Homo sapiens: one gene and its partners. The protein of the gene in region 4 purifies or fractionates together with the protein of the main gene of each other region. This does not show direct contact. Each region holds a gene or a part of one and is shown on either strand. Other genes may lie near its edges. The genes, in order: MYH8, RIDA, THY1, SUGP1, CUEDC2 and ZC3H11A.

Region 1 (3,949 bases), on a different chromosome or scaffold from region 4:
TAGTACCAAAGTGGATTCTAATGAATTTACCCTTGAAAAGAATATTTAGTATTAGAAAACTGAAACACAAAGAGAGATGCAAATGAAATAATAATTCAGACGTGGCTACTCTGGAAGTTAGGGGTTGAGACCAAGAGACTCACAAAGCGAGAGGAGTTGTCATTCCTCACAGTTTTGGCATTGCCAAAGGCCTCCAGTAGGGGATTGGCGCTGATGATTTGATCTTCCAGAGTCCCCTGCAAAGGAAGGAGCAGTTCTCACATCTGGGACTCCAGATGTCTGAGAGCCTTGACAGAGGTTTTGACTCTGGCTATCAGACCTACCTGCATTTTGCCAGATTCATCCTTCTTCTTCTCTCCAGTAACTGCAATTGTTGCAAAGTATTGGATGACACGCTTGGTGTTCACAGTCTTTCCGGCACCAGATTCTCCGCTGTCAAACAGAAATCAGAGAAGAGATCAGAGAACTATGGCCTGCATTGTCAACATCTAAGACAATCCTTGCAAATCAGAGAAGAAAAAAAATCACATACGTGATCAGGATGGACTGATTCTCTCGATCTGTGAAAGAATTCAAAATCATCCGTTAAAAAATGCATATTTAATATGAAGAGTATTGAATCAGTTCAGATCAAACACAGCTTGTTCTTTTTAACTTTTTGAAGATGTCACCTTTGGTTTTGATTTTGTGTTTATCCTCCAAAATAGCCAATTGCTTCTCAGTGTAAAATTTGTGAAAATGAAAGCAAAGAATCATCTCTTCCTTTTTGTATTTATTAATTTTTAATTGCGATGAGATACACATAACATAAAATTTACCATCTTAACCATTTTTAAGTGTAGAGATCACTGGCAGTAAGTACATTCATAAAGTTGTAAAATCATCATCACCCTTCATCTCCGTAATTCTTTTCACCTTGTCAAACTGAAACTCTGTGTCCCTTAAACTCTTAACTCCCCATCTCCTACTCCTCCCATTCCCTGGCGCCCACCATTCTACTTTCTGCCTCTGTGAATTTGACTACTCTAGGTACCTCATGTAAGAGGAATCATAGAGTATTTGTCTTTTTTGTGACTGGCTTATTTCACTCAGCATGGTGTCCTCAAGGTTCATTCATATTTTAGCATATGTCAGAGTTTCCTTCCTTTTAAAGGCAGGATATCTTATTGCATGTATATACCACATTTTGCTTATCCATTCATCTGTTGATGGACACTTGGGTTGCTTCCATGTTTTTGCTATTGTAAATAATGCTGCTATTAACATAGTTGTACAAATGTCTCTTCCAGACCCTGCTTCCAGTTCTTTTGGGGATATACTCAGAAGTAGAATTGTGGGATCATACTGTAATTCTATTTCTAATTTGTTGAGGAACTACCATACTGTTTCCACAGTGGCTGATCATTTTACATGATCACTAACAGTGTACAAGAGTTCTAATTTCTCCAGTTCTTGTCAAAACTTGTTATTTTCTGATTTTTTGATAGTAAACATCCTAACGAGTGTAAGGTACATATTTGATTAATTTTTAAAACATTTATTATGGAAAATTCAAACATATACAGAAGTAGAGACAATAATATAATGAATCCCCATGTGCCCATCATACAGATGCAATGGTTATTAATATTTGGCCAATTTTATATCATCTATACCTCATCCCAATCTCACTGAATTATTTTAAAGAAAATCCCAGAATCTTATAATTGTATTTATAAATACTTCAATTAGAATTACAGAATTTTGAAGGCATAAAAGATCTTAGAAATTGCTTAGGCCAACTCTTACATTTAAGGGATAAAGAAACTGAGACCTGTAAAGGAGGAAGTGACTTTTCTAATATTAAGTACATAGCTAGTTAAGGTCAAATATATCCTCCTGGCCTCTTCCCAGCTTTTGATGTCACTAGTTTGACTTCTGGCAATACTAAATAAGGAAGGGGTCTGGAATTGTGAATATTTGTGTTCATCTGTTTTATTTTCCTTTTAATCTTATATGCATTTCTAAATAATAAAAACAAATGTCACTAATTATGTGACTGATATGTTGTATTTACATCAATTTGCTGATTTGTTAAATCTCTAATTCTATAGTGTTAGATTATAGATTTTAGAGAATTCTAAAACCTAAAAATCTATTCAGGGAAAATAGATATAAATCTGGATGTTATTTAGATGTAGATATAGACATAGACTTTAGAAAACTTTAGCCTTCTCTTCAGGGAAGTCGATGCAGATTTTGCATCCTATTCAGATAGATTTGTTTTCTAGTATAAGTAAAACCGTGGAAGATTATATCACATCTAGTGGAAGCACAGATGAGAAAACAATGTTCTGGTCTCTTGGCAATGCTAAAATAACACTCACCAGCTCAAAGGCTAGAGCTCTGTACCATTTTGTACAAAAATCATGTTTGGGAGCCATAAGTAACCTTGAATTTGGAGCAGCCCCAAACCCTGGGGAGCGGGGGGCTTGCTGAGTGGGAGGACAGGGGTGGTGTACATAGCTGTGTAAATGCAGCTGTTGAGTATTAAAACCTCTGAAATGAGCCAGCGTTTGGATAATTTCTGGGAGGTAGTTAGCTTCTGTTGACAATCAAAGAACAGTTTACTGGCATAGAATCCTTGTAGAATTGATGGCCAATTTGTAATGGGAGATTCCTATTTTATTCCTTCCTCTTTATTCTCCCCCTCGAAAAGACAATTTAAAAACAAGTGCAAAAAAACAAACCAAAAAGAAAGAAAAAACACCTTAGTTTCCAAAATTCCATGGAACAACAGGAAACTCAGGAATAGAAAGTATTTCCAAAGGCAGTGCATTTGGTGTGTGAAGATAAAAGGTTTTAATGCTGTATTTGGGCCTATAATGCGTATCAAAGCTGGTTGTTTATGCCTTGATAAGGCAGGAGTAACAGACTTTGATACAATTTAAACATTTTTCTCAGAAAAGATTTTTTCCTTTCATTGTAATAGGAAAGTGCTTCAAATCTTTGGGAGGAAAATCATAGCTTTCTTTACTCATGTTTTACCCTTAAAGGCTGGCAATATTAGCTGTGTCATTCAAAAATAAACATAAGAATTCACAAAGTTTTCCAGCTGTGGCTGATAACTCTTTTCGTTGACTGCTGTGAGCCTGGGTATTTTTAAAAAGTCTGTTTGAACACTTTTTTCTATCCAAATTGGAAAGTAACAAAATATGGAAAACAATAAATATGTTTACAGTGGTCTAGTAATTGTTTCAGCTAGGCTTCCACTTAACTATCTGTGTTAGCTTGGGAAGGACAGTGAATTCAGTGAGCTTCACTTTACTCATCTGTAAAATGGAGGTAGCTGCTGGGAAGAGCATAAGATGTCACAGCTGTGAAAGTTTTTTGAAAACAGTGAAGCCCCATGTGGCTAGAATGTATTATCATAACATAAAGAGGCTCGGAAGAGGTCTGTCTGTTCTGCAAAGATTCTATTTACACATTTCTGTAAATAGATGCCTCACTCACTCACCAGTCAACATGAACTGATAGGCATTGTCAGAGATGGAGAAGATGTGGGGCGGGGCCTCCTGGCGCTTTTTGCCTCTGTAGGCAGCCACCACCTCGGGCTTGTACACCGGCAGCCACTTGTAGGGGTTGACGGTGACACAGAAGAGGCCTGAGTAGGTCTGGGAAGATCAGAACATTTATCATTTGGATCTCGTTTTTACTCAGAGAGAGACATGAAATAAAAAGGTGTTTACAGACACTCACGTAGATCATCCAGGCTGCATAGCGCTCTTTGAGGTTGTACAGCACTCCAGGCTCGTGTAGATGAGTCATCATGGCCATGTCCTCAATTTTGTCATATTTCGGAGGGTTCATAGGGAAGACTTGGTCTTCCCTGACAGTTAGAGTCTGGTGAGTAAGCAAGAAACCAGTTCGTTTTTGTTTGTTTGTTTGAGATAGAGTTTTGCTTTTTTTG
Region 2 (3,113 bases), on a different chromosome or scaffold from region 4:
GTACATTAGTCATTTAAAGTGTACTTACTTTGGGTAAAGCAGCAACTTGGTAAGCAGCTCTAGCAGGAAAATTACTCTTGAAATCTGAATTTAAAAGAATTTCATTTTTTTAATAGAGAAGAGTTGAAAAAATAAAGATCAAGTGAAAATTTTTATTTTAGTTTTCAGATATTCTATTGTTATTCAATATCTACAATTAATAATCTGGCAAATATTTCATATACTAGTCAGTTCTTAGATATAAGCAACATTTATTTTTATTTTTTTGAAACAGAGTCTTGCTCTATCGCCCAAGGCTGGAGTGAAGTGATGCGATCTCAGCTTACTGCAACCTCTGTCTCCCATGTTCAAGAGATTCTCCTGCCTCAGCCTCCCGAGTAGCTGGGATTACAGGTGTGCACCACCATGCCTGGCTCATTTTTGTATTTTTAGTAGAGTCGGGGCTTCACCATGTTGGCCAGACTGGTCTCAAACTCCTAATGTCAAGTGATCCACCCACCTCAGCCTCTCAAAGTGCTGGGATTATAGGTGTGAGCCACTGCTCCTGGCCTTAAGCAACATTTTAAAAAAGAGGCTCACTATCAGATTTGTTTGATAAAATATTTTGCCATATGATTCCTATGATAGTTAATACTTTTTAAAATCTCTTAGCTTTCTGGCAAAAAAAAAAAAAAAAAAAAAAAAGAAATACATACCCTAACATTTTGATCTTGTTTGATGTGAATGGAGTTTTGTTTTTAAAGTGATATTTATAAACTATTTATCTAAATAGGGAACAAGTGCCCATCTCCAGAAATTTTGGCAAGTACTTCCTCTGCCAACTTTGGTCTTTTCTAATAATTTCTTCAGGAGAGAATAAGTAACGATGCTTTTTCCAAGTTATACCTTTGCCTCATCCCATTAGGTGTTGGGGACACCAATTTTCCCTACTATAACATCAATGTTAATAATAGCTAACATTTACTCAGTGCTTATAACACACCAGCATCTAAGTGCTTTACATGTTGTACTGACTCATTTAATCATTCCAACAACCCTATAAGTTAGGAGTATATTATCTCCATTTTGCATATGAGAAAACCAAGGCATAGAAATATTAAGTAACTAACTAATGAGTCTGAGAGAGCCAGGATAAAGATGGTGGCTGCACCATACAGCCACAGTAAATAAAATCTATGCATAAAAAACTTGTTAGGAGAGTTTAAAAAGCCTGAGAAGGATTTAATGAAATTAAGCTTTTGAAAAATGGATATGTAGGATTTCAGTATATTGTTTTAGGGAATGCAATAGAAATGTCTTAGAACTTTTTCATGGGGGGTATACAACATATTTCCAATCAGATTATTAATTCTTTTAAGATCTATGACCATTTCTTTAGCATCTCCTACCACTCTTAATTCATAATGCACATTCATTAATGTGACCAGATTTCTTTCTTTTTAAAAATGGAAAATAGGAATAAAGCCAAATTACTTACACTGTTTGTAGATTTCATTGACAGTATTGAAGTCATTTATGTCAGCCAGAAGAACAGTTGTTTTCACCACTAGAAGATATAAACATTGTCATTAGGTTTAGTTATTTGGTCTGACCCAAAACATTACTTAGAAAAAGAGTGTATGAATCTGAGACTGTCTTGATTAAAATGGGACTGAAATGGGACCAAAGAAGTGAAGTAGAACAGTTGCTATTTAAAACAACTTTTAAATAGCAACAAAGATATGGCACGGCATCTTACTGGATGCCATATATTTTTCAAAAAGACCAAAGAAATATCAAAAAGAAATGTGAAATAATATCAAATTGCTCACCGTTAGTGAAGTCACAGCCTGCAGCTTTCAGAATTTCACCCATGTTTTTAAGAGCCTGTGAACCAAGCCAAGAAAGGCCTAAGTCACTGATGTTAGATTTAAAGCTTTAATTAAATTCAATTAATCATCTTTTACTAATACCTCCTTAAATAGCCTATGTTGCAGAAAAATCCTCCCTACTCGCTTACAAGTGTGTTTCTTGGCTTTCCTTTAATAGAATGAGTCTTTCTGATATATGGTGAAAATGTTGTCTCCTTTTGTGCGTAAAAAGACTAGGTTGAAGTTCCTTCTTCAGTGCTAAAATGTGTTAATTGTTCAGCCAATGTCCACAGAAATAATTTCTGGTGTTCTTCATTCGATATCACGTCAAGGATAAGGATGAGCTAGTAAGCATTAAAACATATTTTCTTTTAAAGCAATATTTGACTTCAAAGGGTTCTTTTTCCTTTTTCTCAAAAAAACAATATTAGTAAATTATATAACAGTTGGAGACACTGGCTTCTGGAAAAACATTTATCTTTTTTTGGATTCACTCTTCCCACTTTGCTGGTCACAATGCAATATTTCATTATATTCTTGTGTCTTTTAAAATAATCTTCTAAATAGGTAATACATGGATATGGCAACAACAACAACAAAAAAACTCAAAAGCTATTAAAAAAGCATATACCGTGTAAAGATATCTCTCACCCCTCTCTCCCTCTCCCAAGTTTCCCTCCTCAGAGGTAACCACTGTTCCTAATTTATTGTATATCCTTCTAGGTACAGTCAATGCTTATGTTACATATTTTTAAACACACAAGCACACATGGTAGCATACTGTGCATGTTGTTCTGCATCTTGGTTTTATTACCATGGAACAATTTACCTCGGAGATCTTTCCACATTACTTTAGTTGTATTGATCTAGCATAATTTATTCAACCAGTTCTTTATGAGTGGATATTTAGGTTTTTAAAAATCTTTCAGCTAGGCCGGGTGTGGAGGCTCATGCCTGTAATCTCAGCACTTTGGGAGGCTGAGGTGGGTGGATCATGAGGTCAGGAGATCGAGACCATCCTGGCTAGCACGGTAAAACCCCGTCTCTACTAAAAATACAAAAAATAAGCCAGGTGTGGTGGCGTGTGCCTGTAGTCCCAGTTACTTGGGAGGCTGAGGCAAGAGAATTGCTTGAACCTGGAAGACAGAGGTTGCAGTGAGCTGAGATCACGACACTGCACTCCAGCCTGGGCGACAGAGCAAGGCTGTCTCAAGAAACAAAACAAAACAAAACAAACTTTCAGCATTATATGACTCAGTAAAT
Region 3 (4,678 bases), on a different chromosome or scaffold from region 4:
AACTGCCTGCTGTCCCCGAGCCTGGCTCTCCCAGCTCACTTGACCTTGTTAGGGGCTTGTCTCACCTCTGAGCACTGTGACGTTCTGGGAGGAGATGGGTGGGGAATGGCCAGAGTGGTGGAGTGCACACGTGTAGGTGCCCTCGTCCTTGCTAGTGAAGGCGGATAAGTAGAGGACCTTCATGTTGTATTTGCTGGTGAAGTTGGTTCGGGAGCGGTATGTGTGCTCAGGCACCCCCACAGTGCCAAAGAGCACGTGCTTCTTTGTCTCACGGGTCAGGCTGAACTCGTACTGGATGGGTGAACTGCTGGTATTCTCATGGCGGCAGTCCAGACGAAGGCTCTGGTCCACTAGGCAGGCCGTTAGGCTGGTCACCTTCTGCCCTCGGGAGACCTGCAAGACTGGCACCAGCAGTGCCTCCTTCAAACTGGAGGGGCCTGCGGCACAGGGGCCTCCCACCCACCTGAAGTGGAGAGATGGGCCTGGCTAGGGAGGGGACCGGGGTCTGCTCTCTGAGTGCCTTTCCCCACCCCAGGGATCCCACTTCTCCTTTGCAGACCCCAGCCTCCCTCCCCACTCTGCTTGAGCCTTGGATCCTATCAATGTGTTTCAAGGACAGGAGATCTTAGGGAGTTGATGCTGGTTCCGGGTTCTCAGTTGGGGATTCTAGTTCAATAGTGTGAAGGAGGGCTCAGCAAACTGTGTTTTCAAAAACCACCTCAGGCCGTCAGAATATCAGCGCGGTGGATTGGCTGACTTCAGGATGAAAAAGAGCCCTCTCTTTGTCACCTGCGCTTTTCTGAGACTGTGAGGGAGAAGCTGCTTCTCTGGAGGGAAGGAAGCCAGGGCGCCTGGAGCCCCAGTCCTGCCCCATGCCGGGTACCTGTTAGCAGGAGAGCGATGCTGATGGCCAGGTTCATGGTTCTGGGATCTCAGTCCTGGATCTGGGGTGGGAACAGGATGGGAATCAGCCAAGCTGTGCCACACTTACCACCAGGGCTGGGGGTCCCTGGGAACATGGCATAGTGGCTATGGCAGTCATCTAAGTCCCTCTCTCCATTCCCCCTCTCGTCCCTGCATCTCACTGAACATGATACTGCCACTGGCTCTTTCCTGCTCAGGGAAAGCAAGGAAGGAGGGAGAACAAGCCCAGTCACGGTGTGTTTCTGCGCTTGGCCATGGAGCACTTACTAGCTGGGTGACTTTAAGTAACTTTACCACTCTTTCTCCTCTTCTTACATTAACATAGTGTATGGTAATATAAGACCTATGAGGGCTGAGGCTTCGTATTTAAAAAAAAAATTTAATCGTGGTAAAATACAAAAAGCATAATAATTACTATTTTAACCATTTAAATTCAGTACTTAAATTCAGTATATTCAGCAGTGCTGGATACATTCACGTTGCTATGCAGCCCATCTCCGGAACTCTTTTTGTCTTTCAAAGTAAAACTCTGTATCTGTTAAACAAAGACTCCCCATTTAGGGACTTCCCATTTCCTGTTCAGAAGAAAATCCCCAATGCTCAAAACCGTTTCCGTTTGCAGATTACTGGCATATAGCATACACTCCAAAGATATTTATTGTGAATGAATGAATGAATCTCTCTGAATCTTACATACCCACCGGGTTATGATGGGGGTTAAGAAAAACAACCAACATCTGGCGATGACTGCTTCATATACGTGAGACACAAATCCCTAAGTCACTCGCCATCCCCAGTGGATGGCTAGATACCATTCACCATAGCTAAGGATGCTCCCAGATAGGGAGCATCTATTCCTATCTGGATAGGACACAAGCTAATCGTGTTCCTGGAGGAGAGAAAGACATAGTGATCTCCGATTGTATGTGAGCCAAGGATGCTTCCCAATGTCCAGCTCTCTGGAGTTCCTGGGACTGCAGTTTTCCAGCCCAGTTTCAATAGCCACCCTGGATAGGCTGTCTGCCTGGTCTTTTTTTGTTTTTTGCAGCCTTGGCTGAACCAACCCTTGGCGAGGCGACGCGGAGCCGGTAGTCTAGCCTATCTGCAGAGCAGTGCTCGCCCAGGAGAGGCCACAGAAGGGGCGTGCACCCGCGAGAGCGCGCAGGGCATTGCCTCGGTTGAGTGCGCCCGGGTGCGCAGGGCGCACCACTAGACGAGTTCAGGGTCCCTGGCGCTCAGCCCCTTGACGGGTGAGGCTAGGATCCCGCGGCGGCTGCAGCTACAATCAATGCTCTCTCTGTCCCGGGGTGGAGCTGCTGCCCTGAGCCAGATCCAGGAGGAAGGGGGGTCGGCATCTGGCTTTTGAATCGAGGACTCTTGTTTGAGATGTTGTGCGGGCTTGGGATCTAGGAGGGGAAGGGGGAGCAATGGCCAGAGCAAGAAAGGGAAGAAATGGGTCTGGGGCTGGAGAGGGTAGAAGAGCCAGGGGAGGGGTGGAGAGCGGCTGGGGAGGTGCAGTCTGTATTCATTTCCTCTGGTCTGTGTCCTCAGGCGGCTCCAGACCCAGAGAAGGTCTGCTCTTCCTCCCTCTCAAGCCCCCGGCGGGCCTCATCCTTAATCCATTTCCGTATTCCAATCCTCTCCTTTCCCAAATGAGTCCCCCTTCCCCCTCTCTCATCCTTTTCCAGCTCTCCCCTCCCCCGTCCGCCCGCCTTCCACCCAGTCCCCGCCTGCGGCACTGCGGCTTCCTTCTCCTCCGGTGCCCCGCACCCAGCCCGCCGCGAGGTCACCCGGCAGATTCCCTCTAGCTCGCCATCCTCCATCCTCTCCCCGCAGTTTCATCCGTCCTCCTCCCCGCCTCTGCGAGCTGGGTTTGGGGACGTCTGGGTGGAATGTAGACCCACAGGCTGTCCTTGGTGCCCTTCCTCCCTGTTCTCCAGCGCCCCAGCCCCAGACACCAGTCCCCCAGCGGGCGAAAGCCCGGGAGCGCCTTCCCCGAAAGACATCAGGGTGCCACGCGGCCCCTGCCCTGCAGAAGCATCCCCCTCCCGCCCCTGCCTGGAAAGCAGGCCCCTCCCTAAGCTCTGCGCCCTTCTTCCCTGGGCGCCCTCGGACCGTGGCCCGAAGCCTAGTGTTGGGAAGTCTTGCATGGGCGCCTGACGGCGGTCCCCGAGCCCCAGGTCCCACCGGCTCCAGTTCCCACCTGGACTGGGGTCTTCCGCTGCTGCAGCCTCCTCCAGACGCGCCGCCGCCTCCGGTTGCTGCACCCAGCTCGGAGCCCGCAGTTTTCACCGGGGATGGAGGAGAGGGGGAGCGGGGAGCCGGGGGCTCAGCCAATCAGAGGCGGAGATTGGGGGAGAAAGGACGGCAGGGTGGGGTGGGGGGTGGGGAAGGAAGAGAAGGCGGTCCCGCATTGGTGTGAGAGTGGCAGGTTGCGGCGGAAGGGGGCCCTCACCCTGTGGCTGGCAGGCCTGGCCAGGGACGGGAGGGTTCGGGACCCCGGGGATCAGGGTGCGGCAGCCCAAAGAACATTATCCTCCTCCCTGAGCCCCGCAATGGTTGTTCCCCTTTTAAGGCTTTAACCCTTTCTTCTGACCTATTCTTCAGGAGTCTGTGGGAAAACCAAAGTGTAAGAGGTGCAGGATGCAGGCCGGGAGCGCCCACGCCTCCACATTTCCTTTTCAGCTGGAGCCCACCTCCTCCGGAGCCTCCAGTGAGAAGTTTTGGAATATTCCAGTCTTTCTGAAAGGAAGCTGGTTGGGTGTTTTTCAGTGTTGGAGCAGCCCTTCGGAAGCGAGGCAGGTGCTGGACCCACCCTGTCCGTCCCTGGTCCCCAGCCCCATTTCGCCCCCTCATCTATTCCAGAGCACCCAGCCCTTCAGGGGGCTGCAGGCGCTTTTTGCTCTGGGCATTACGTCTTCTTCAGCCCCTGGGCTGGCACCTTCTGGTCCAGACAGCTGGAAGGTTCTTCTGGCTTTCCTGAGTACAGTCTGCTTGTTTGGTCTTCAGACCAGGAAGGGAGTGTTGCCTTTTAGCAGGCACTGTGCTGGGCACATTACATTCATGGCGACCTTTAACCCATGGCCGCCTGCTGGGTTCATCCCATCTCAATCCTCACCTCCTGTCTTGGCTGGTAAGTGGGAGAGCTGGAGAACTGACCTGGGCTATGGACCCCAGCTCTCAAGGGTGAGCCATTCCTCTTGCTCATCCCTGCCTAGTGGGAGAAGAGAGAGAGGAACTCTGGGAAAGAGGAGGAGACAGCACAAAAAGGACTGAGTCGAGGCCAACTCCTGATCACCTGGGGCACTCCTGATAACCCACCGATTGGATGTCACCAGAAGCCCTAGGCTCATTTTTAGAGACAGTGCTGATGACTTTCTCTCACTCACAGGTGTAGTGAATTTTTTTGAACTAACGTTTATTTGATTGATTTGTATCCTGCCAGCCTCTTTATGAATTCTGATCACGACATTCTGTGGGCCTCCCCAATGTCTGCCTGCCTGTTCTCCTATTTCTTCATGGAAGTCAGCCCTGGCACCTTCCCTGCAGTTTCTGATACTGCAGTGGCACTGTTGGAAGCCACTGTTGGAAGCTTGCAAGTGGGAGGAGATTCGCTTGGTTTCCCAGCATTTAGGGTGATGGAACACTCTAACTGGAATGAGCCTTGCAGATGGTTAAGTCCAAAGGAGCTATTCACTTTGGTAAACTGCAGAGGTTTCTAGGGCATTTTATGAAAAATGCAGCTGGCCTTGCC
Region 4 (3,949 bases):
ACCCCATCTCTACGTCCCAGCACTTTGGGAGGCCGAAGCGGGAGATCACGAGGTCAGGAGATAGAGACCATCCTGGCTAACACAGTAAAACCCCATCTCTATTAAAAAATACAAAAAATTAGGCGGGCATGGTGGCGGGCACCTGTAGTCCCAGCTACTCAGGAGGCTGAGGCAGGAGAATGGTGTGAACCCAGGAGGCAGAGCTTATGGTGAGCTGAAATCGCACCACTGCACTCCAGCCTGGGCAACAGAGCGAGACTCTGTCTCAAAAAAAAAAAGAAAAAAGAAAAAAGAAAAAAAAGGCAGAATTGCAATAGGCCCAGCAATTCCACACCTAGGTATACCGACAAGAGAACTGAAAACGATTCAGATAGTCACAGCAGTATTATTCACAACAGCCAAGCAGTGTAAACAACCTCTGTGAATATAAGAGTTCATTCACAGATGAGTGGGTAAGCCAAATGTGGTATGTACACACAGTGGAAGATATGGCCACAGAAGGAATGAAATTCTGATACAAGCTACACTGTGGATGAACCTTGAAGACATTATGCTCAGTGAAAGAAGTCAGACCCTTCCAACACAGGGAGGGGGAGAGGGTCTGCCCACCTGACAGAGGCGAGGGAGAGGCATCCACGTCCCTCTGCACCAGTTCAGCAGGTGGGAGCTCTACCTTATCCTCTTCAGGCCCCCACCGGCTCTTCCGCTTCCTCTTCACGGTGGCTGCGGAGGCTGGCTTCCCGGGGGCAGCTGGAGCAGGGATGATAGTGGGCGCAGGCGTGGACGAGGCGGGGCAGGTGGTGGCTGGGGGTAAGGACCCTGACAGGGCCTCAGGAGGGGACTTGCGCTTCAGGCCGGGATCAGGTGCTGTGAAGCTGCCTGTGGAGCTGGCCTTGGCTTTCCGGAACTCCTCCAGCTTCTGTCGGTAGTACTTGTACCCTTGGCTATTGGGCTCATACAGAAAGCTGCAAAGGAGAGTTGGGGGGTGCAGTGTCAGCTGGGCCCGAGGCCCTGTCCCTGATTCTGGGCAGGAGCAGTTCTGGCCTTGTGTGCCCACGTTGGCCAGGGTCACTATATGGTCATGTCATAGTCACGGTCTCCACCATGACCTCCTGCCCTGCCAGGCCTCCTGGCAGTGACTGCTGGTTCTGGTGGCCCGATGCCCTTCCTTTGAACTGAGTCACTCCAATCCTCACCCTGTCTTTATCAGGCACCCATCACACTGTCATTGTTCACCCTGCTACAAAGGGAAAGGGCAGGGACCCTCAGACCCTTCCCCAGGGCCTGGGAAAAGTGAGACATTCACACCAAAAAATCTCAGATTGTGGGGAGACACCAGACACGAGACAGGGCAGAGGGACTTGTCTTGATCCCAAGGGCTTCTCAAATGCATCTTTGAGACAATGAACATCAGAACGGACCAAGGAGCTGATTTCTACCCCACGTGGGGGCAGGCAGCCTCAGGGAAGTGTGGCTTCCAGTGAGGCTGGGAGCACAGGTCTTCTCTGTCCCTACCCAGCCTGAGGAGCACAGCAGGTGGCGCTGGGTTCAGAGCCATGTTCCGCACCTACTGGCGCCTCTCGGACCGTACACATCCCCAGTCCACAGGACTGTCTTTGGGGTCTATGCCAAAAGGGAGAGTCTTGGCCCAGCTCCACATGGCAGAACACGGGAGAGAACTGAATGCATGTACAGCCCTGAAAGCATGTTACAGTGCTGAACAAGATGGGGCTGGACCTGCACTTGTGAATCTGGAGGGATGGTCATAGCACCAAGGCGTGCAACTAATGTGAATTAAAGGGTCAAGGATGCTGTGAAGTCCCTTTGTGTTACAGAGGCCGGGCGCGGTGGCTCACGCCTGTAATCCCAGCTCTTTGGGAGGCCGAGGCGGGCAGATCACCTGAGGTCAGGAGTTCGAGACCAGCCTGGCCGACATGGTGAAATCCCGTCTGTACTAAAAATAAAAAAATTAGCTGGGCGTGGTGGTACACGCCTGTAGTCCCAACTGCTCGGGAGGCTGAGGCAGGACAATCACGCGAACCTGGGAGGCGGAGGTTGCAGTGAGCCAAGACTGGGCCACTGCACTCCAGCCTGGACCAGAGTGAGACTCCATCTCAAAAAAATAAGATAAATAGTGAGCGAGCAGCAAGAGACCCCTTAGACAGTTTCTAGGTGAGCCTGTGTGTCTACGGCCCTGCTAACATCCGGTACCTCAAGAGGGTGGGACAGAAGGACAGGAGATGACAGCATCTTCTCTGTAATCCTGGGTCATGGTACACGTGTGACCCAGTGAGGAACATATGCAAAGATTAAGAGGTAAAAGCAACAACTGTTCAGGAGAGAAGGGAACAGTTGGTCAGATTTGGAAAAGACACTTGACAGCCGGGTGAGTTCAGACATGGATTTGAGAGGCCAAGCTGGGGAGGCTCACTTGCTAGGGCGAGCAGGCATCGGGGTGTGGGGGCCCCTTCCTGGTCTCAGCTGGTGCTTCACCCTGAGTGTCCTCCAGGATGGTCCAAGGATGCATCACAGTCCCCTGGAGGGTCTGCCCATCTCGGGGAGGGGGTTACAATGGCACTCAATGGTAGACCCCCATGAGGGGGAGAAAGTGGAGCCCCCCAACACCCCATCTAGAACACGGCTGGGTGCACCACCAAGGTTCCCCTCTGGTGGAACTAATCCCACCCTGAACCCAGGGATAACCACTGTTAAGGTGTTTCCTGCCAGTTTCAGCAAAGATTTATCTTAATAGAGCTGTGATCCTATACATATCCCAGTTTTAAAAAAAATTTCTGCCTCAAGCTGATGACATAAGCCTTTCCTATTAGAACAGTGGAAGCATGTTCACTGACTGGCCTTGCTTCAGTTCCCTCACACTGGGCTGCCAGCTCACATGGGTGCCTTCTGAAGGCGGCATACTCCACTGGGGAGATGTGCTGATGATTTAACCCACAGAGGTTGGACGCTGACTGTGTCACTGACTTTTCTTTTTTTTCTTCCTTTTTTTTTCTGAGACGGAGTCTTGCTCTGTCGCCCAGGCTGGAGTGCAGTGGCACAATCTCAGCTCACTGCAAGCTCCGCCTCCCGGGTTCAGGCAATTCTCCTGCTTCAGCCTCCTGACTAGCTGGGACTACAGACGCCCGCCACCACACCCGGCTAATTTTTTTTTTTTTTTGTATTTTTTAGTAGAGACGGGGTTTCACTGTGTTAGCCAGGATGGTCTCGATCTCCTGACCTCGTGATCCACCCCGCTCAGCCTCCCAAAGTGCTGGGATTACAGGCATGAGCCACCGCACCCGGCCTACTGACTTTTCATTACAGCTGATGCTCTATTGACATGATTTCCAGGATGTATCTCAGAAATGGGAGAATGACTAGTCCAAGGGATGGGCGTTTCCAGCTTTTCATTTTTTTTTTGTTTTGTTTTTCAAGATGGAGTTTCACTCTTGTTGCCCAGGCTGGAGTGCAGTGGTGCAATCTTGGCTCACCGCAACCTCCGCCTGCCGGGTTCAAGCCATTCTCCTGCCTCAGCCTCCCAAGTAGCTGAGATTGCAGGCATGCGCTAATTTTGTATTTTTAGTAGAGACGGGGTTTCTCCACGTTGGTCAGGCTGTTCTTGAACTCTCGACCTCAGGTGATCCACCTGCCTCGGCCTCCCAAAGTGCTGGGATTACAGGTGTGAGCCACCAAGCCCAGCCTCATTTTTTATTTTTTGAGATGGAGTCTTGCTCTGTCACCCAGGCTGAAGTGCAATGGCATCATCTCGGCTCACTGCAACCTTTGCCTCCTGGGTTCAAGTGATTTTCCTGCCTTAGCCTCCCAAGTAGCTGGGATTATAGGCACATGACACCATGCCCAGTTAATTTCTATATTTTTAGTAGAGATGGGGTTTCGCCATGTTGGCCAGGCTGTTCTCGAACTCCTGACCTCAGGTGATCCACTTGCCTTG
Region 5 (3,862 bases), on a different chromosome or scaffold from region 4:
CAGACTTGCTGAGCTTCCTCCTGTCTGTGTCCTGCGGGACATCCATGGCTCGTCCAGTCACTCCTCAGGGCTCCGCTCAAATGTTACCTCCTCAGAGAGCCCTTCCCTGACTAACCTATGGCAAGTAAGTCTTCTCCATGCCCCTTAACCCTACATAGCACTTACTACCATTAACATTATTTTGTGCTTATTTGCCTATTGTCTGTCTGCCCCCATAAAATGGAAGCTCCAAAGCAAGGTGGGGATGAGGGGGACACTCTGTCTTATTCATGAGTGTAACCCTAGCACCTAGAAAAATGCCCATACTGGCTAGGTGCTGAATACATACCTGTTGACATGCTCCATTCCCATCTACATGCTTTTGACTCCCAAAAGTCTGTTTGGGAGTCAGGAGCATATGGGTGGTAATGAATGGCTCCAGACCCATAGGTCCAAATGCCAGCTCATCATCCCACTCAGAAGGCTCCGAGGCACCACCAGTTCCACGCACCTCACACTCATCATAGACTACTGATCTGCGCACATCCCCCTCCAAACACACATCTGCTTCATCAGCTGACACCACTCACTCAGCTGCCAAAGCTGAAACCTGGGGATTACCCTTGATTTTGCCCTCTTTCACCCCTACCAGTCAATCACCAAGTCTGTCAATTCTATTTCCTTCTTTCCTTCTTATCTGCATTGTATCCACTTCTCCCTATCCTGAGTCTGGCTTCTGCTCCAAAATCTCCACCAAAATTTCTTCTTTTTCTTTTTTTTAGGCAGGGTCTGGCTCTGTCACCCAGGCTGGAGTGCAGTGGTATGATCTCGGCTCACTGCAACCTCCATCTCCCCAGCTCAAGCCATCCTCCTGCCTTAGCCTCCGGAGTAGCTGGACTACAGGCACACACCACCTACTAGTTTTTTGTTGTTGTTGTTTGTTTGTTTGTTTTAGTAGAGATGCAGTTTTGCCATGTTTTGAGTCCAGGGTTCGAGACCCAGGCTGGTCTCGAACTCCTGGGCTCAAAGCAGTTCGCCCACCTCAGCCTCCCAAAGTGCTGGGATTACAGCCATGAGTCACCGTGCCCGGCCTCAAAATTTCTTAGACTGAGGTCATCAGTTACTTTTTCCAGGTTTTAGTCTAATTAGGTTGAACCATATGAGCTTGCCAATTTTGTCTGGTTTTGATCTACAAAAAAAAAGGGGGGAATTTCTCATGATTTCACCTTCTATTTGCCCTTTCAGCAGCTCCAACTTTGGTTTCTGAGATGCCATTCTTTCCTGGTTTCCTTCTACCTCTCTGGCCATTTCTTCGAAGGCCCTTTCTCTGTCCCCTTCTCTGCTCCCCTCTAAATGTGGGAGTTCCTCACATGCAAGGCTGCCTCTCCTTCTCACTGCAGCGCTCTCTCTCTCTCTGGAAGATCTCATCTGGGCCCACATCTTTATGTACCAATGCCATGTCATCAATTCCCAAATGTCCAGTCCTCTAGTCCAGTCTCCTCTGAGCTACAGGCTTGGACATCTACCTCTCTAACACTGCCACGTGTATGTTTTACAGGCATCTCACAGTTAGCGTGTCCCAAACTAATGTTCTCTCAAGTGCTTTACTCCTCCAAGGCCATTCTCAGTAAATGCATGTCCAGGCACCCGGCTGTTCCTGCCACAAATCTGGGAAATATCCTTGACACCATCCTACCCCTTGCTCTCCCTCATCCAATCAGTCGCCAAGCCCTAATCATTATCTCTTGCCACATCTATTTCTCTCCATCTCTACTCCCACTTTTCTCCATCTCTTGCCTGCAAGAACTTCCTAACCCTTCTCCCCACTCCATCTTCCCCCCAACAACCTATTCTCCACACCACAGCTGTGTGATCTTTACAAAAAAATCACATCTTTTCCTGCTTAAAATCTATCAATGCCTTCCTGCTACCCTTCAGGGAAGTCCAGAATCTTTTCATGGCTTTCCATTGCCGTCCTTACCCTGTCTATATCTCTCTCCAGCTTCACCATGCACCATACCTTCCTGGATCATTTCCCTCCCTCCACCCTGGCTTTGTTTTTTGTTTGTTTGTTTGTTTTGTTTTGTTTTTGAGACAGCCTCACTCTGTTGCCCAGGCTAGAGTGCAGTGGTGCCATCTTGGCTCACTGCAACCTCTGCCTCCTGGGTTCAAGCGATTCTCCTGCCTCAGCCTCCCGAGTAACTGGGATTACAGACATGTGCACCACACCTGGCTAATTTTTGTATTTCTAGTAGAGACAGGGTTTCACCATGTTGGCCAGGCAGGTCTTGAACTCCTGACCTCAGGTGATCCACCTGCCTTGGCCTCCCAAAGTGCTGGGATTACAGGCATGACAAAGCACCCGGCCCCACCCTGGCTTTCTTTCAGTTTGCTAACACTCAAACTCTTTCATGGCAAGGTAGTATACCCTCTGAGCCTTCTGCCTCATCATCTGAGTGGGACAATGAGCTGCCATTTGGACCTATGGGTCTGGAGCCATTCATTACCACCCACATGCTCCTGACTCCCAAACAGACTTTTGGGAGTTAAAAGCATGTAGATGGGAATGGAACATGTCAACAAGTATGTATTGAGCACCTAGCCAGCACGGGCATTTTTCTAGGTGCTAGGGTACACAAACTATTTCCTCTGCCTGGGCACCCTTCTGCCTCCACCCCTTCACTTACTGTCACTCTGATCTTTTGGGTCTCATTTTAAAATTCCCTTCCTTGGCTGGGCACGGTGCCTCATGCCTGTAATTCCAGCACTTTGGGAGGCTGAGGCAAGAGGATCGTTTGAGCTCAGGAGTTTAAGACCAGCCTCGGCAACATATCAAGACCCCATCTCTCTTTTTGTAGAAAAATATTTTTAGGCCAGGCACGGAGGCTCATGCCTGTAATCCCAGCACTTTGGGAGACCCAGGGGGTTGGATCACGAGGTCAGGAGATCAAGACCATCTTGGCTAACACAGTGAAACCCCGTCTCTACTAAAAATACAAAAATTAGCTGGGTGTGGTGGCACGCGCCTGTAGTCCCAGCTACTCAGGAGGCTGAGGCAGGAGAATGACATGAACCTGGGAGGCGGAGGTTGCAGTGAGCCGAGATTGCACCACTGCACTCCAGCCTGGACGACAGAGTGAGACTTTGTCTCAAAAAAAAAAAAAAAAGAAAAGAAAAATATTTTCAAATAAAAATAAAATAATTCCCTTCTTCCTCAAGGGACATCACCCCTGACCTAGAACTCATTTGGGCCCTGCCATATTACACTCTCTATGCAGGCTGCAAGTTTTCTGACTAGCAGCACCTTTCACAGCCATAATTATTATTTGGACAATGTTTAATGTTTCTTCCAGTTGTCTCATGAAGCAGGGACTAAACACCGGGCTGACATTCACCAGTGTATACTCAGCATCTCTCATGAAGTGGGCACTCAATAAACAGTTGAACCCCAATTTACCTATGAAGAAATGAAGTTCAGTGTGTTTAATGACTTGCCCAGAGTCACCTGGCTTGACTGCGGTAGTCAGATTTAAATCCAGGTCACCTAGTTCAGCATCTATTCTAGGGGCTACTCTGGGGAAGGGAGGATATCAAGACTTTCAAGTGGGTTGGGACAGGGCTACCTTCTATGCTTACAGTTGCCTGGTCCCGAGTGGTAACAGAGTTGCTCATAGCACAGGGGTCACTTTGGAAAGCAGGACTGAGAAGCCCCAGCCTACCAGGGGAATTCATACCACCTGCGCCAGAGCCCTCATGGGCCCTGAGGAAGAGCAGAATGGCTCAGCCCAGGCATACTAGATCCCATCATGCAGCTCCCTCAGGGTAGAACCGCCTCCAGGGACCTACCTCGACCCTGGGTTACATCACCCTCGAATCCTGGGCT
Region 6 (3,949 bases), on a different chromosome or scaffold from region 4:
GCTCCTTGTGGAGCAGGGCCACTCTATAGGTAGTGTGCCCACAGTAGCCTATACTTTTAAAAAATATTATACTTTTAGAAAATATCAATAATATTAAAATTAATAAATAAATATTGATTAATAATAATTAATTCTTTTTAAAAATTATACTTTAAAAATATTAATAGGTAATTATGCATATGACATAAACTTAGAACATAGTTTTAAAAAACTGATTTTGCCAAATCACCTTTCAGAGATGTGGAGCAAATTTACATTTCCATTATGTGTTTGAGACTGCCTGATTCTTCCACGTCCCTGAAAACAGTGTATAATTGAATTTTATCACTCTCTCAATATAGTAGATTTTGACCTTTGCCCTTTTTGATACATTTAAGCATCTTTTTGTAATGGTTATTGTTTCTCTGTCTCTCTTCTCCATATTCTTAAATTTCAATGCTGGTGTTTTTTCCTGGAATTTTAAACCATAGGCTGTTTATGATGATTAGAGATTCGACATAATGCAGTTCATCGGAGGTTAGTTAGTTTTTGGGAGTACTTCTCATATCTTTTTTCCCCCTTTTTTGAACTATTAAAATGTATCTAGAAAAGTGCAAAATCGTAATCTTACAACTTGAAGAATTTTCATAGAGTGATTATACTTACTTGATCAGCACCTAGTTCAAGAAATAGAGTATTAGCAGTAATCTATCTTCCCCTTCATCCCCTTGTTACTAACCACATCCCCAAAGCTGATCAGCATCCCAACTACTCTACCATGGAGAAGTTTTGACTGTTTTCATCTTTTCATAAATGGAATGGTATAGTATGCACTCTTGTGTCTGGCTTCTTTCATTTCACATCTGTGGCATTGAGTATAGCAATGGTTTATTCCTTCTCATTACTAGATGATATTCTGTTGTACGAATACTTTACAGTTTCTTTATCCATTCTAGTATTGATGTACACATGGGTTTGCAAAATTATAGAGCTATTGAAAATAATATTGCTGTGAACATTGCTTATACACAGCTGTTGGAGAACTAATGTATATATTTTTCTAGGACATACATCCTATGATTCAGCAGTTTATTCTATTCTAGATGCACAGGTATTCTTTTTTTTTTTTTTTCTCCCAATTTTCCTTTATAAAAGTAAGGTGACTGGCCGGGTGCGGTGGCTCACACCTGTAATCCCAGCACTTTGGGAGGCTGAGGCGGGCGGATCACGAGGTCAGGAGATCAAGACCATCCTGGCTAACATGGTAAAACCTCTTATCTACTAAAAATACAAAAAAAATTAGCCGAGTGTGGTGGCAGGCACCTGTAGTCCCAGCTACTCTGGAGGCTGAGGCAGGAGAATGGCGTGAACCCGGGAGGCGGAGCTTGCAGTGAGCGGAGATCGCGCCACTGCACTCCAGCCTGGGTGACAGAGCAAGACTCTGTCTCAAAAAAAAAAAAAAAGTAAGGTGACTTGGGAAGGATACCTAACATCCTTAGTGTGTTGTTATAGGTGCCTTACTTTGAGAATTCATGAATGGGAAGAATTTTCTCAAACCCTTGAACTCTCAGCTTCAAGTAATAACTGCAGTTTATTGAGTTTGACCTATGTGCTTAGTGCTTTATATACATTATTTTATGTACTCTTCATAAGAAACCATTTATTCCCGTTTTATAGCTAAGGAAAGTGAGGCTTAGAGGCATGAATTATCCAAGGCCACCTGGCCAATAAGTAACATAATAGAGATTCAGACCGTTATCTTTGATTTCATAAACTTAAACTACTGTATCATCCTGCTTCTCTAAATTAAGTGTAGACATTTTAGGGGTTCCAGGATGAGGGTAAAAAGGGAAAGAATAACATAAACTACTCTCCTGCTCCATTCAGCTCTCCATCATGCCTAAGTTATGTTATTTTCAGCAATCTCTCTTCCTTCTAAAAATCATCTCATCTCACATGCCTCGGATTTTTGAACCCTGTATGAACTTTGTCTAGAAAACAAACTGCCACATGAATATACGTATCACTGTTTTATTTGAAAGCAATGTGTTTTTCCCTCTTACAGAAAAAACGCAGTGAAATTCCTTGTTATTGGGAAAATCAGCCAACAGGATGTCAAAAATTAAACTGCGCTTTCCATCACAATAGAGGACGATATGTTGATGGCCTTTTCCTACCTCCGAGCAAAAGTGAGATCAGTTTTTAATTTTAAAAGAATATCAAATGAACACCTATTATGCACACTGTACAACAGTACTTTTCAGACATTGACTCCTTTCAGTCTTGTGAAACAGCAGAATTATTTCCACTTTACAGATAAGTGAACTGAATCTTATTAAGGTTAAATGATTTATCCTTGGCCTTAGAACCATTATATATCTTGGCATGCCATTTAAGTTATTATACTTACTTCATTTCTCATATTCTTATCAGACCCATAAACGTTTTCAAAATAAATTTGATTTTCTAGGTCAAAGGTTGGCAAAACTGGTCCTCTGCCTGTTTTGTAAAATAAGTTTTATTGGAATATAGCCTTGCCCATTCATTTACATATTTTCTATTATCAGTTTTGTGCTAGTGCTATAGAATTGAGTAGTTGAGACAGAAACCATATGGCCCACAAAGCCTAAATTATTAACTGGCTCTTTACAGAAAATATTTGCCAACCCTACTCTAGACTATAATCTAAAATAAAACTAAAAAGCTAGTGGTTATTCCCAAAGTTCATTTTAAAGTAATTTAAAAGTGGAATTGGCCATTTAAAAGCCACAGTTGCTACGTGATTAAAATTTGATGGCTACATCTTTTTACCTCAATTTAAGGGAAAAAAGTAGACTTATTCCTTTCTGGTTTGGTTCAAGTAAGTGTCATATGCTTGGGTCTTAGAAGCTACTTCTTTGCTGAGCAAAAAGCCTAGAATTGCAGTATTAAAATTAAAGGTCTAGAATTTGTGAACAGGTACTATGCTTCTTCTAGTCTTCTGTTGATTCTGTTTTGAGTGCCCACTTTGTGTTTATGTACAGTGGAGAGTTAGTGGAGAGTTAATTAGGTAAAAGCACATCTTTTCCCTCCCTGGGACTTTAGAACTTAAATGAGGAAATTTAGTATAAATGCTCATAAGACAAATACACTATAGTTTTCATAGGTGGTCAGGAATTTTTGGTAAGTTGGGGTTGTATCTTCTGTTTTTAATTTATGACTGATTTTGTGCGTTTAGCTGTGTTGCCCACTGTGCCTGAGTCACCAGAAGAGGAAGTGAAGGCTAGCCAACTTTCAGTTCAGCAGAACAAATTGTCTGTCCAGTCCAATCCTTCCCCTCAGCTGCGGAGCGTTATGAAAGTAGAAAGTTCCGAAAATGTTCCTAGCCCCACGCATCCACCAGTTGTAATTAATGCTGCAGATGATGATGAAGATGATGATGGTAAGTTCTGTCTGGCTCCTTCTTTAAGGCAAATAAATAGGGTCTCATAGTGAATTGGGCAGAATCAGGATTAAAGCTATAGGCGTATTTTTAATTGTGAATTTGCCTTAAATGTTGATATATAGATCAGTTTTCTGAGGAAGGTGATGAAACCAAAACACCTACCCTGCAACCAACTCCTGAAGTTCACAATGGATTACGAGTGACTTCTGTCCGGAAACCTGCAGTCAATATAAAGCAAGGTAAGAAGAGGCTAGATTGGTGCCTCTTATAGCACTGTTGAAACTACCTTTGAAATTTAGTTCACAATCATTGACCTCCCTCTTCTTTTTCCCATGCTACACGCATACTTACCTATACTTAGTTTCTGTTGATCATTTATTCAAAAATAAATGCCTGCTATGTACAGATAAAATACAAAGATGAAAAGGCTCCCGTTCCTCATAAAATTTCTATTTGAATTTTCAGGTGAATGTTTGAATTTTGGAATAAAAACTCTTGAGGAAATTAAGTCAAAGAAAATGAAGGAAAAATCTAAGAAGCAAGGTG

The links.
Region 1: the proteins of SUGP1 (region 4) and MYH8 purify together in Homo sapiens (affinity purification with mass spectrometry; one large-scale study listed by BioGRID and IntAct). This does not show direct contact.
Region 2: the proteins of SUGP1 (region 4) and RIDA fractionate together in Homo sapiens (co-fractionation; one large-scale study listed by BioGRID). This does not show direct contact.
Region 3: the proteins of SUGP1 (region 4) and THY1 fractionate together in Homo sapiens (co-fractionation; one large-scale study listed by BioGRID). This does not show direct contact.
Region 5: the proteins of SUGP1 (region 4) and CUEDC2 fractionate together in Homo sapiens (co-fractionation; one large-scale study listed by BioGRID). This does not show direct contact.
Region 6: the proteins of SUGP1 (region 4) and ZC3H11A fractionate together in Homo sapiens (co-fractionation; one large-scale study listed by BioGRID). This does not show direct contact.

What each region holds. Positions count from the first base shown.
Region 1 is NC_000017.11:10,415,149-10,419,097, forward strand, and holds part of MYH8 (myosin-8), read right to left. Parts: intron 3,883-3,949; coding exon 3,739-3,882; intron 3,654-3,738; coding exon 3,497-3,653; intron 561-3,496; coding exon 533-560; intron 433-532; coding exon 324-432; intron 237-323; coding exon 144-236; intron 32-143; coding exon 1-31. UniProt on the Homo sapiens protein: Muscle contraction.
Region 2 is NC_000008.11:98,104,461-98,107,573, forward strand, and holds part of RIDA (2-iminobutanoate/2-iminopropanoate deaminase), read right to left. Parts: intron 1,867-3,113; coding exon 1,812-1,866; intron 1,547-1,811; coding exon 1,478-1,546; intron 85-1,477; coding exon 29-84; intron 1-28. UniProt on the Homo sapiens protein: Catalyzes the hydrolytic deamination of enamine/imine intermediates that form during the course of normal metabolism. May facilitate the release of ammonia from these potentially toxic reactive metabolites, reducing their impact on cellular components.
Region 3 is NC_000011.10:119,419,986-119,424,663, forward strand, and holds the start of THY1 (thy-1 membrane glycoprotein isoform 1 preproprotein), read right to left. Parts: upstream 3,188-4,678; 5' UTR 3,128-3,187; intron 2,804-3,127; exon of another isoform or gene 2,704-2,803; intron 2,578-2,703; exon of another isoform or gene 1,626-2,577; intron 945-1,625; 5' UTR 921-944; coding exon 884-920; intron 402-883; coding exon 66-401; intron 1-65. UniProt on the Homo sapiens protein: May play a role in cell-cell or cell-ligand interactions during synaptogenesis and other events in the brain.
Region 4 is NC_000019.10:19,296,380-19,300,328, forward strand, and holds part of SUGP1 (SURP and G-patch domain-containing protein 1), read right to left. Parts: intron 966-3,949; coding exon 610-965; intron 1-609.
Region 5 is NC_000010.11:102,425,892-102,429,753, forward strand, and holds part of CUEDC2 (CUE domain-containing protein 2), read right to left. Parts: intron 1-3,862.
Region 6 is NC_000001.11:203,826,255-203,830,203, forward strand, and holds part of ZC3H11A (zinc finger CCCH domain-containing protein 11A), read left to right. Parts: intron 1-2,044; coding exon 2,045-2,168; intron 2,169-3,196; coding exon 3,197-3,400; intron 3,401-3,525; coding exon 3,526-3,642; intron 3,643-3,868; coding exon 3,869-3,949. UniProt on the Homo sapiens protein: Through its association with TREX complex components, may participate in the export and post-transcriptional coordination of selected mRNA transcripts, including those required to maintain the metabolic processes in embryonic cells.